2 linked regions of the Homo sapiens genome follow. The protein of the gene in region 2 interacts with the protein of the main gene of each other region in a pairwise test. Each region holds a gene or a part of one and is shown on either strand. Other genes may lie near its edges.

Region 1 (8,097 bases), on a different chromosome or scaffold from region 2:
ATCAGAGAGATTAGGGAGTGGTAGGGGGCTTATTAAGTAGAGTGAGCTGGGTAGAGTATTGAGATTACATTGGCTTTTATTCTGAACTAGGGCGAGGTATTGGAAGATTTCGAATGAAGGACTGACATGATCTGACTCAATATTAGCCCCAGTGGTCAAAATGAAGTGGAAGATACAGAATAGAGAGACAGGAGAAGTCTTTTCCAGAGAGAAGTATCCAGGTTTAAGATGATATGAAAAAAGTATCAGTGAGAGGAAAGTTGCTATTTTGAGAAGTTTTCACTGACATTTAAAGGAGAGTGAAAGCAGCTTTTGATAAACTCTTGGAATCACAGATTTAATCTATCTAGGCTTTTGAAAATGTCCATTACCTAGTTGTCGAAGCCATTCTTCATTTGAATTTTTAATTCAAGCAAACATGATTTTATAAGGAATGTTACAAAAAACACTGAAAAATAATGAATGCATCTGATAATGCAATTATAAAAATAATCAGAATTAAAATGATACAGCCCTATTAATTTCATAATTTATAAAAATAAGATGCCTTTCTTAGTGTGGGATGGTGTAGTATAGAAAAGTATAGCCTATCTGAAGCAAGGAGTATGATAGAAAACATGATATTCCTTCTATAAATGCATGTCTACTCATTTATCGAACTTTGCTCTATAGGTTTGGGCATAATTAAGAATCAGGTAAAAAAAAAATCAGGAATAGATTCATTATTCCTTTTTGGGGTGGGGTCAGGGAGGGGACAGGGTCTTGCTCTGTCACCCAGGCTGGAGCACATACAGTGTCGTGATCTTGGCTCATTGCAGCCTCGACTTCCTGAGCTCAAGTGATCCTCCCAACTCTGCCTCCCAAGTAGCTGGGATTACAGGCATGTGCTATCACGCCCAGTTAGATTTTGTTTGTTTGTTTTTGAGATGGAGTCTTGCTCTGTTGTTGCCCGGGCTGGAGTACAGTGGCGCAATCTCAGCTCCCTGCAACCTTCGCCTCCCGGGTTCAAGTGATTCTCCTGCCTCAGCCTCCTGGGTAGCTGGGATTACAGGTGTGTGCCACCTTGCCCAGCTAATTTTTGTATTTTTAGTAGAGACACGGTTTCACCGTGTTCGTCAGGCTGATCTCGAATTCCCGACCTCGTGATCCACCTGCCTTGGCCTCCCAAAGTGCTCAGATTACAGGAGTGAGCCCCTGCACCCAGCCAAATTGTACTTCCTAATAGGTGCAATTTCCAGCAGCTTTTGACCAATATTTTTTCCTTTTTCACTGCTAAAAGTACAGATTATCATCCAGGTACCATTGAAATGCAGTTGCTGTCTGAGCTATTCAGCCGTATCTTTGGCAGATGTCTAGTGTTATTCATCACTCCTGTAACGACCTTAGCAAAAGATTGTACATGATTCACACAACTTGTCCTTGAGAGATTTTTCAAAGTTGAGCTGAGTTGTGAGGAAGTATTCTAAACCTTGCTGTCCTGAAGTATAGTTCATAGACCAGCAGCATTGGCATCACCTGGAAGTTTGTTTAGAACAGAAACTCAGGCGACATCTCAGACCTAAGGAAGCAAAATCTGCATTTTAATAACATCTCCAGTTGATGTATATATATTAAAGGTGGTAAAGCACTGGTCTAAAACAATCTTGGTGGAAATGAAATGTTTTTTTCTCTGTCTTCTTTCAGGTCTTTGTTGAGTATGCAAATGCTGGTGATTCCAAAGCTGCGCAGAAATTACTGACTGGAAGGATGTTTGATGGGAAGTTTGTTGTGGCTACATTCTACCCGCTGAGTGCCTACAAGAGGGGATATCTGTATCAAACCTTGCTTTAATCAGTAACCTAAGGACTGTTTCCTTTTTCTCCTCTTCCATTTCTTGGGTTATTCCACATATGAATGCAGGACTACCCCCTTACCATTTTAAGAAGGTACTTTATACATTTATTTAATCCTACTAATGTGCAGCCATTGCCCAAGCAGTGACTGCGTTGCATACATTTGGCACTGAGTAGGACAAGACCTCTCAGCTATACATTGAGGGGTTTTAGAGCATCCATGTGGGCAACCCTTTTTTGTGCGGGAGAGCAGGTGTTGCTCTTCAGTATGTAGCCTAAAAAAATCTTAATTATTTCATGGATCATGAAGCAAGGATGAATAATATCATGTCTTGGTAAATACTAACAAATTTGTTAGGTTTGGTGACATCATTTACAGATTATTTCTTTATGTTGTCCAGTGGTTCTTCCTTATTGTTGATATCCATAAGCTGGCACTGGATGCTCTCAGTAATGTTAAGTAATTGTCAAGCAGCAGTTACCTACTGTGTTCTTAACACTGAGTTGTGAATTTTTTCTTAAAGCAGTACTGTAGTACTGAATATTCCTTTAAAGGAACTGCAGTGAGCCTATCTAAGTTTTTTTAAATTAAGGCTTTTAAAATAGAAAGCTGATGCTTGATCTTGCACAATTTTTATGTCTAGTATGTATGCTTGAGTGAATGTGCGAGTATGAATGATTAGAGAAAATTTGAGTCAGTGTACTTTATAGTGTGAATCCTGTGAGCTAATACAGTCTATACTTATTTCTTCCCTACCTGTTTCACATCCGTAAGATTTAAGATATACATTTTTTGAGAGGTAGTCTGTCTGATACAATGTAAATGACAAAACATAATTCCTGAGAGGCCCAGAACAAACTGGAGTCTAGCCTGGAGTTAAATTGAGACTTCTAAAATGATTGGAACAAAGACTAAGTTGTGCCAGATGTAAATCAACCCCTCTTTTAGTTTACTTTAGACTTTGTATTAGCTCATCTTTTTTGTAGTAAATCTATAGTTTTAAGGTTTCTCAAGATGTGGCTCTACCTACTATGATGAAAATTGAAGTGGGTCAAAAGAATTAGATGTACAGTGAAGGGAAAAGAAAAAAAATGGGCGAAGAGAGGGTGGAAAATAAAAGGATTCTTTTTTCTTCCTTTCTGTTTCTCGTATCCCTGCTCCCTTTTTCCTCCCCTTCCCTCATTCTTTGCCTCTATCCTTAGCTGAAGACAAACTAGAGGAGCAGCATCCCAGGTAGTTTGGCTTTTGACTGCAAGGTAGTTAAGAAAGGTGTAGATATAATGAGGTAGAAGTAGAAAGGAAGAAAAACTCAAAGAATTCTTAAAAGGATTCATAGCAACATAATGTGTCCCTGAGTAGAGGATGCTGCTATGCGTGAGTTCATGGACACAAGTTGATTACATGGTTTTTAGAATTATAATTATGGATTCTTCTTATTTCATGGTAGGTTGTCTTTAAAGATATAAAAATTAGGATGCCTTTATGAAGCACTGATTATACCAAAAAAAAAAGACAAGTTATATACAGGTTATTAATTTTTTTATTTATTTATTTTTTCCTAAGGAAAAAGTCTTCTATCTTTCCCTGCTGGAAGCCTCCTCATATTTCCTTATGTTTGCCATGCAGGTTGCTGAGAGTCCAGTTAGAATTTGCATTTTACAGAATGAAATACTTTACCCCATTCAAACAATTATTGTTTGACATTTTAGTTATTTATAATTGTCAAATTCAGGACTCTCCTTTAATGTTTATTATGAAACCAAATTTGGCATAAGGAGGCTGATTTATGAATTACCAAAGGGTCTTGTGGCATGTTCCCCAATACATGCCCTTAGAAGGAAGAACTATTATTTTTTATTTTGGCCCTTTCAGGAGTTGATTATAAATTGGTTTGTTTTCAAGTCAGAATTCAAGTGGGCAGAACCCGTATTGTGAAGACCTAAACTTTCCTAAATGTTCATATGGGTAGCAGATTTTGTGGTGATTAGAAACATCAGGTCCTTAAATACGATGAACATGGGATACAAAGGAATTCTTTATAAGGGCAAGTATCCTAAGTTAGCACATTTACTTTTCTCTCCCCTCCGCCCCCAAAAGAAAAATCCTTACAAATAAACTGCAGGTAGGCTTCTAAGCCTAGTCCTGCAGTATGCTGCTAACATCTTGATGCCAATCTTCACAGCATTCTTTGATTGTCATCTTATTGCTGATACATTCATACATATATTTAGTGCTTGACACTGTAGAATTTTGTTACAGAAGATGGTTACTAGATTTTAAGGGAGCTGAGGGAATAATTGATGAGCCTTGAATTAACCATGCATTTAATTAGATTTTTTGTTGTTGTTGTTGTTGTTTTGAGATGATGTCTTGCTCTGTTGCCCAGGCTGGAGTGCAGTGGCTCAATCTCGGCTCACTGCAACCTCTGCCTCGCAGGTTTGAGCGATTCTCCTGTCTCAGCCTCCCCAGTAGCTGGGTTTACAGGCGCTTGCCACCACACCTGGCTAGATGTTTTATATTAAAGCCAGAGAATTGAAAAAGAAATGCCTCCTGTGATTGAAATTATTTTATAGCTCTTAGCCCGTTCTACCAAAGATCACATTAGCAGATTACCCCTCCCTCCTGTGATATTATCTTTCTTAAACCTGAACCAAATATCAAAAGATACAAGTTTCATGATTAGGATGAAATATATACATAGGGATTTTGGTTTATTGAAGTTATTGAAAGACCTAGAAATTTTCTTTTTGAGAGAAAGGGTAAAGAGGTGAGGGTTCATGTCACTTAACCCCTACCCTTTTGGGCAAATTTTGTCTCAGGTAGTGTTTCATTCCCTAAATTAATACCTGTGCTTCCTTGCCTCTCACCTTCCCAGTTACTTCTTTGGGGTATTACTGTGGCACATTGTACACCCAGAAAAGGCACATACAGTGATTATTTTGTGGGAAATACTTGATTCTTTTGAAATATATTTGGAGGGGGTAGCTAGCTAGCCACTGTCAAAACTAATGCTGTATTTACAGGACAAAAACAAGTAGAGTTGGACACCTCAGTAAGAGACAGCATTAACTAAAAGTACTGACTGCCTTTTAAAGGAATTTTTAAAACTATTCTCTTGCAATAAGAGATCCGCATTTATTACCACTGGATGTCTTCCTTTTTTGTGGCCACCAATATAGCAGCTCTCTTTAGAGGGATTCCCTTTCTGCTATGCCTTGAGCCAAACTGGCTGCTTTTAGAACAAAAACCATAAGTATGGTTTTACTCGAACTTCTCTTTGTTTTTATTGAGAGAAATATTGCCTTCTTTTTGGTACTCCAGCTGCTAAAGAGTGCTGAGATATGTTAAATTATTTTTTAAAAGAAAATCTCCAAATACTTATTTAACTTGTCTTCTAGATTCATGTTGCTTATATTTTAACTATTGAGCAAGTTTATTATAAGGAATGCTGCCATATAGAGAAAGCTGAAGAGAAACCATGGGCAGAAGGCTTTTTTCTGTCTTATTACACTGGACCTTCACTCTGGTAAGGGCATCAGTTACTTTTCTGGAATAAAAGGCGGAGTTAGAGCACTTATCAGATGCTGTTTCATGGCTTGTTTTAGTTAATTTATCATGCAGATAACTAACATTTGGGTATCTTTTTGTTTTAGGTCTTATTTTCTGACTGTTAGGCCTATCTTACACATAAGTTCTACTATCAGTATACTTGGCAGCATGACTTTTTTTTTTTTTTACAGTTAATTTAATGAAAATCAGCACCATTGTAAATGATAGTAATTGTAACAACATAGTTACTGGGTGAAGGAGTAGGGGAGACACTCAGTAACCATCTATTTACCTAGACACTTATGCAGGGGTACATGCTAGGTGGCTTTATTCAGATTCGGGTACATTGGAATCACATCATGACTTTGAGTCTGATGGCTGTGTAGATAAAGATTTAAGCAAGTGCCTTGTGTTTGCTGGAAAATATTAAAACTCATTTGGGTGAAAGCTTCCCAGATGATGATAATTAATAGCACTTCTGCCTTTTTCCTGGAGTAACTTTTAGATTGAGTCACATATGATAGTATAAAAGTCCAAAATTTTCTGGGTTTACCTTTGTTTTATTTTTCATATATATATTCACTGTCTGCCTGGAAATAGCCTTGGTTTACCTTATTTTTTTGTATATGTAAAACTATTCATATTTGATTTTATTCCAATATTATATATGATGGAAAAGCCAGAATTGTCTGGCAGAATTTAATTCTTCCTTGGATCTCTAGTTCTGTTTTTAATATCAGGTTCCTTCATCAAATTTTACTACTGTAGCTCTGTGATATAATTTCATTTCTTGTCAATTATGGTCACATATAGACAAGTACTTGGTCACAATTAGCTCAAAAGAATCCCCATTTCTTAAGGTGCTCAGTCAATCACCTTTATTTTGAGATGGTAGTTTTTCAAGTTAGTATTACTTACTAGCTTTCTTGATGAATATAAAAATGTTGTCTCCATCATACAGAGCTGAGCCTCTTGTGGTATATTAAGATAAGTCCCATTCTTAATCACAGAAGAACATGGATATTTTAGTTTTTGGAGTACCCAGAATTGTAAAGATTTTGTTTCATTTTGTTTTAGGATAGCTTCTCTGCCTAATACTATAGGATATGTCATGTTCGTTATTGTAGCCACCTCCCTCAGATGTTTTTCACTATTTTTAAATTATATAATGACCAGTAGATTCACAGTAGCATGTACTTGACAAGTGCCATGGATATTTAAGAAGAAGGTAAATAATTTTAATATTTTTTGCTGTAATTTTATAGGAGCAGTGGACTGTAAGAGAAATATCTATAAATCAGAGAGTATTTAGGAAACTTTGTATTTTATAGGTGGTCATTAAAGTGATCTTCAGGATATAAGATAGTTTACACAAACTTTATTCTCCTGATAGGAAATTTTTATTCATTTTCCTACCACTCAGCACTTTTGTTCTGCCTTGTACTGCTTATGAGGATTAATGTTTTAAATTTGCTTTATTTGTGCTTTTCAGAGAGTTGTCATAATTGTGGCAGTTGTGTTTGTGGCACTGTAAATGCTGAAATTCATGGGAAACTTACCAAATGACTGCTTGAGTGTTATTTCCCATTAAATTGGGTAGCTGTCACAATAACCAGAAGAAATCTTGTGGCCCTTTTGAAGAAAGCCATGTATGTTTTGTTACCTAGGTTCATAGTATTTTAATTTAAAGGCAAAGAGAAGCATTCTACTTATTTGTCTTATAAACCATTAATCGTTTTTTGTGCAGAAGAGAGCTTATTTTGTTATACTGCTTTGTATAATGGAAATAAGTCACATTCTGGGGGAAAAAAACTGGAATTGTTTGTATTTTGTTTTTTTGGGGGGGGATCTTTATGTGAAAAATCAGAGCTACTTGTTACCATAAGCCCTTACTATCAACAAGATAATTATTTGTAATCACTTTTTTATCCCAGGTTGGAATTGCTTTCCCCTTCTAAGTTATCTTCCCTTAATAATATTTATGATACCAGGACAGTGAGGGTATAAGAGCAAATGTAGTGAGGTATTCAAAAATCCTGCATATATGGACTCAAAAGTTCTTTAGTTATTTGAATTATATATAGCTATATTATTTTATTAGCTTGGGTTGTCAGAAGATTGCCAATTTTAAGAGTAAAGAGGAGAGAGATAAGTAATAAAAATAGAGGAGGGGAAGAAAATGGCTCCCTTACTGGTCTTAGTAATCTTCTATATAGTTAATGAGCTAAAAAATGATACTTAAAGTTCCAGGTTTGGTACCGCTAGCATAGAAACATTGCCTTTCCTACACATTCCTCATCATTGTTTCCTCAGAAAATTATTTTAAGAGTTTGTGAAACCAGATTAAATATCTATATTCAGTTTGGCCTAATTTTTAAAAATAAATATTTATACTCCAGCTTTTGTGTATTTGGTGTACATCACCACTTATGCAAATCAAGGATCAGAAAACTGGAGGTTAGCCATCTCCATTATTTCCTTTTGCACATTGGGTACAGTGGGTGGCATTAGTATGCACTAGCTGCAAAGTCACAGCACCTTATGGAAATAAGTATGTTTATTATAATAAAAAAAAGTTAAGCTGCATCTCTGTAGATTATTTACTTTGCAGACTGTAAAGCTGCCCTATCTTTTCCAGCAGAATTTACTCTTCCATTCTTAATTCTTTTTTGAAATATCTTAAATAATTTAACATTCCTTTATAACTTCTTAACA
Region 2 (4,977 bases):
CAGCAGAGAAGGAAAAAAGCCACTTGGCGGTTTTAATTTTAGCTGCTCTGTGCCTGACAGGCAGGATTAGTTGGCTTGACCTTTAGTGTTGATGCCTCCCCAGGCCCAGGGCCTTAGGTGGCAGCTTCCAGGCACAAATCACCACTGGAGCTCATCAAACGTGGACGTCTGAGCCCCAGGAAAAAGCCTTCAAAGGACAGAGACTAGAAAAATGAGCAGTGAACAAGGAGGGGCAAAATTGGTTCTCAGCGATGTTAACTAGTCACCAAAGGGGAGACTGTGGAGCCACCCACACACTGAGCTCCCACCACCAAAGCCACACACAGGAGGCAGGTGGTGGGCTTCCCTAATTAACCACCCACAGTCTCACCCCCCCGGACCTGGTGCTGAACGAAAGTTAAGGCACCTTTGGTGCTGCTGCTGCTGCTGGTGGTAGAGGAAGTTTATGTGAAAAGAAAAACCGGGCGGGGCAGGCATTAAAAAGAAAATAAAGAAGCAGACCCAGAAAACCACACTGCTCTTTTATTCAATGGAACATCCCCGCTTTAGCGCAGTGTTGAATCTAACACCGAAAAAAGCCCAGAGAAATTTCTGCAGATAAACCAGTGAAGAGAACGCGCAGTATACATTATTGTCAACAGAATCACTTCATGGAGAGGGAAGCGGGAGGAAAAAGGAAGGAGAATGAACAAGGGGCTCAAACCCCTACACACTGCAAAACATTCAGACATTTGGGATTAAAACAAAACATAAAAGGAAGCCTTCCAGGAAGGAGAGGACCAAATGGAATCTGAGGCAGCTCAGGTGATCAAGGAGCACAGGAAGAACTCCAGGCTGGCAGGCGAGCCCGAGGGAGCTCAGGCTGCCCACCCACTGCTGGCAGGATCGCCAGGACGGATGGGAATCCCGAAACCTGGAGATGAACCTACCCTCGGCAACTTTACAAGACTCCCTTGACAAGGGTGGCAGAGATTAAAAAACCCCACGCTTTAAACAAACATCTTTGGGGGTGGCTATGGCACCTTGAAAAACCCACAACCAGCTTGACATGAATGGCCAAAGCCCTTGCCCAAAACCATTTGCTCCCCTCTCCTTGGTAAGGGAAGGAGAACTGGAGAGAAGGGAAAGGAATCTAAATTGCAGCAGAAGACCGGGGAGAGCATCTCCTTGGACGGAGTCTGAAGAAAGGAAAAGATAAAGAAGTAACAAAGGAAAAAGAAAAAAATTAATAAAAATTTCACGATATGGAGCCAGCGTGTTCCGATTCCGTCCACAAAAATAACTCAGGCTGCTTTGCCGAACCATCCTGTCCACCAGGGGCGTTGCTGAGGCTGTCTGCCTGGAAGGGTCACCAATGGGCGCGGAAAGTCCTCACTCTCATGGCTCGGGCCATCGCCGCCGCGGGGAGGGATCCTGGCGGCCCGGTTTGGGGAGAGGCAAAGGGAGTTGGGTGAGGAGAGAAAGAAGACAAAGAAGACACTCGATGCTACGGGGCGCCAGGAGAGCCCAAGCTGGCGCCCCTACTACCACCTGCCCGTTCCCAAGCGAATCCTCAGTCGCTTGGCCCAGCCCAGTGCGTGCACACACACACATGCGTGCACACACAATCACATGCGTGCGTCCCAATGTCTGGCTCCATATGGTGAGGTTCGGCGTGTTTAAACGAGACCAATTCTCTCTATATATAATATATATTTTCTTAAAAAACAAGTCTAGTTCTGTGGTGGAGGCGGTGGGGGAGCTGGAGGCATCCCGAAGGGCGGCATGCCCGCCACCCCCATGCCCATCATGGTGACAAAGTTAGAAGGGTCCATGGGAGGCGGAGGAGGAGGGGGCGGGGCATACATCATGCCGGCGGAACCAGGCGGTGGAGGCGGCGGAGGGGGAGGGGCCCCAGGCGGCAGAGGCGGCTGGACCCCGGGGGGCAGGGGCACCATAGTGGGGTTGCCTTGCATCTGAGGGGCTCCTGGAGAAGCTGCGGCAGCCGCCTGCTGCTGTTGCCATGGCGGGATGGACCCTGTGCCAGCGCTCGTGGTGGTAGTCGTCGTATCTGGGGTGGTAAAGAAGCCCAAGGTCACACGCGCGGGGGCACACCGCGGCTGTCTGCGGCTGCTGCCTTGGGATGGGGGCGAGGGGCGCCTGCTCCTTGCTTGGCATGCGGTACGGTGGTGGGGGGCGGGTGGGCGGGGCTGGTGATGGGGAGTGGAGGGGTGGGCAGGACTACCCTGGGGTCAGCCTCGAGGTCTCTGGGCTTAACAGAGTAAGCCCTTTGTCACCAATGCCCCTGGAAGGGCTGAGGGGAAGGTACCAGACACAAGAACAGCTCTGATGTCCCTCCGCCCAGCCGCCGCCACCACCGAACGGCACATTCAACCTCAAGGCCACAGCTGCTGTCTCCCCACTGCCCAGTCCCACCTCTGCAGTCTCTCACCCCAATCGCAGCCCTTGCCAGAGCAAGCATGCACCATCCCACTCGACCCATATGCACCAGGCTCAGTCCAGCCAGCCGCTCACTCAGCCTGCGAGGGTCTGGACTTCTGGCCCCCTACCTACAATAGCAGGCTCCCCTCCAGGCCCCCACGAACCTCTCCCCAGACACAACCACACCAAACATCAGCTCTCCTCTTCAAGATGCCCCTCCACCCCCTGGACCAGGAGGCCCTTTCTGTTTACAACCCCAGCAGAGCCCAGGGGCTCATCCCAAGACACCTGCCTGCTTGTGTGAGGCTCTATGGTTCCTGTCAGCCCCACCCCCATCCCACCCACCCCCACAAGCCCAAAATATTCTACTCACTTTGCTGCCATGGCAAGGGGGTACTGGAAGCCATACTGCTGCTGGGCGGAGGGGGTGGCGGAGGCTGCTGCTGCTGTTGTTGCCATGGGGGAAGAGGACCAGAGGGAGGGGGTGGGGGCTGCCCACTGGGAGGCGGCGGCGGCGGCGGCATCATGCCCATAGGTGGTGGCGGCATCATACCTGTGGACAGGTGGAGGCAAAGATGAGGCCTCAGGGAAAGGCGGGGACTTGGGCCAGAACCCCCACTCACCCAAGCCTAGGTGAAGACCCACAGCCAGCAGACAGCCATTACCTTTTCCTTGATGCAGGCGATAGACCCCAGAGCCCACAGGCGTACTTCCCAGGTACTGATCTTGATGGAAGGAAAGAGCAGGGACTTAGCAGGACATTGGAACTGGCCAGGGAAGCCACCCCTGTGATAACCTCAGTTGCTATCCTTACGCGAGTTCTGAAAACCATGCCTGTAAAAGGCAGGTCTGTGCTTACCCAACACAGAATCACTCCCTGAACCAGAATGGAGTCTTGCTCCTTCCAGAGCCACAACCCTGGCAAGCCAGGCAGACCCAGCACATTGCCCAGCCACTTGAGAGCTGCTTCTAGCCAACAGCGACCTGACGTAACCCCTTGCTTATCCCAAAGCCCCCAAGGTTTCTGGTCTGACACTTACTTACCCATTGGAGGAGGGCCATGGTGCCCAGGAGGGTGGGGGCCCTGGTTCATCGGTGGTGGTGGTGGCTGCATCCAAGGGGGTGGGGGTCCATTGGGGTTGTGCTGCATGGGATGTCCACCATGCCCACCTGTCAGGCTGGGTAATGGGTGTGGGAAGCTGTGGGGGCCACCTCCGGGCCCACCAGGACCACCTCCATGCATGCCGTGGTAGGGCCGACTCTCTGAAGGGCCAGAATTCATCCAGGGTGGGCGGCTCTGGGTGGTAGACATGAGAGACTACGTGAGAGCATTTCCTGCCAACGTCCCTGCCTGCGCCTCCTAGTGGCAACATTGTTCTTCGGGTTATGACACAGGACCAGAACACAAGAACAAGGTCTTCCCGAAGTGAGAAGTCCCCAAACTGGCCTGAGATCCCGGAAGAACAATGTTGCCATCCACATCCATTGTCTGCTCTACCCAAACCACGTGGCCATAGCTCCCAGTCTCTGCAGTAGAGAATGGGGAAGCCAGACCAAGAGAGCCAGCCCCCAGGCTCACCGGTGGAGGTGGGTTGTTGGCGGGAGCAGCAGGACGAGGTGCGCTGGCCAGGGGTGTGGTGGCAGGCCCAGAGGTGGAGCCCACAGATGCTGGGACAGGTGCTTCACCCAGTTCAGCCATGAGGGACAAATATTCTTTATCCATCCGTGCTTTATCCTGAGCTGACTGAGGATCACCAGGCCTGAAGTGGGGTGGGGGACACAAACAGAGAAAGGGGAAAAACTTGTTAAGAAGGAAGCTTTTATCCTGAGGAACCAACATATGGAAAGTTCTGAAGAATTCAATCACCAGATCATCACACATCTTTCTAACCCCTTACTGGGCATGGCTCTCAACAGTCTCATCAGATCTTCAGTTTCGTGCCCAGTTCTGCATCTGGGATCACCAGAGTAGAGGGGCCCCTGGGCGAAGAGCACAGGAGACCCTGAGCACCGATGAAGCACAGGTTCTCTCAAGTCAATTTCATCAAACTTCATTCCCAGTTTGAGGAAAGGAAAATCTATGCAAGACTGGCACAACTGCCAGAACGAACTTCCTAAACAAAACCTTACATATTCGCCAGCCAGTCAGAAAGTGTTGATATCGAGTGCTGACTTGCAACTGGTCAGAAATCTGTAGAGATTGCTTAGTCTTCTTGAACCAATTCTGAACAGCAAAAGCAGTGAATTTCCTATTGAGCCCCAGTAAAAACATACCCAAAATGGAAACTTCCAGTTTTCTTGGGCTCAAGACAAACAAACAGGGGTATCTGTACAGCCTATTTCTAATCATCCTGGGCTTTAAATCACACCATTACAGACCACACTAACAGAAAGGATGTTTCTCTTGGTAAGATTAACAGCAACCAATGAATGTGCCAGAAAAGTTGTCCTGCACATCGCAGGCTACCAGGAAACCGCAAGAGCCAGCCCCTCACCTTTGGAATTTACAGTCTGAAGCAATGTGGCCAGCCCCTCCACACTTGGTACACACTGTGG

The links. The genes of interacting proteins can lie anywhere in the genome.
Region 1: the proteins of SF1 (region 2) and UHMK1 interact in binary tests that used the Homo sapiens proteins (3 or more experiments, as listed by UniProt).

Annotation. Positions count from the first base shown.
Region 1 is NC_000001.11:162,520,721-162,528,817, forward strand, and holds part of UHMK1 (serine/threonine-protein kinase Kist), read left to right. Parts: intron 1-1,683; coding exon 1,684-1,830; 3' UTR 1,831-8,097. UniProt on the Homo sapiens protein: Upon serum stimulation, phosphorylates CDKN1B/p27Kip1, thus controlling CDKN1B subcellular location and cell cycle progression in G1 phase. May be involved in trafficking and/or processing of RNA.
Region 2 is NC_000011.10:64,764,106-64,769,082, forward strand, and holds the end of SF1 (splicing factor 1), read right to left. Parts: coding exon 4,917-4,977; intron 4,182-4,916; coding exon 4,001-4,181; intron 3,740-4,000; coding exon 3,466-3,739; coding exon of another isoform or gene 3,462-3,465; intron 3,147-3,461; coding exon 3,087-3,146; intron 2,975-3,086; coding exon 2,795-2,974; intron 2,051-2,794; coding exon 1,713-2,050; 3' UTR 1,414-1,712; coding exon of another isoform or gene 1,284-1,413; 3' UTR 501-1,283; downstream 1-500. UniProt on the Homo sapiens protein: Necessary for the ATP-dependent first step of spliceosome assembly. Binds to the intron branch point sequence (BPS) 5'-UACUAAC-3' of the pre-mRNA. May act as transcription repressor.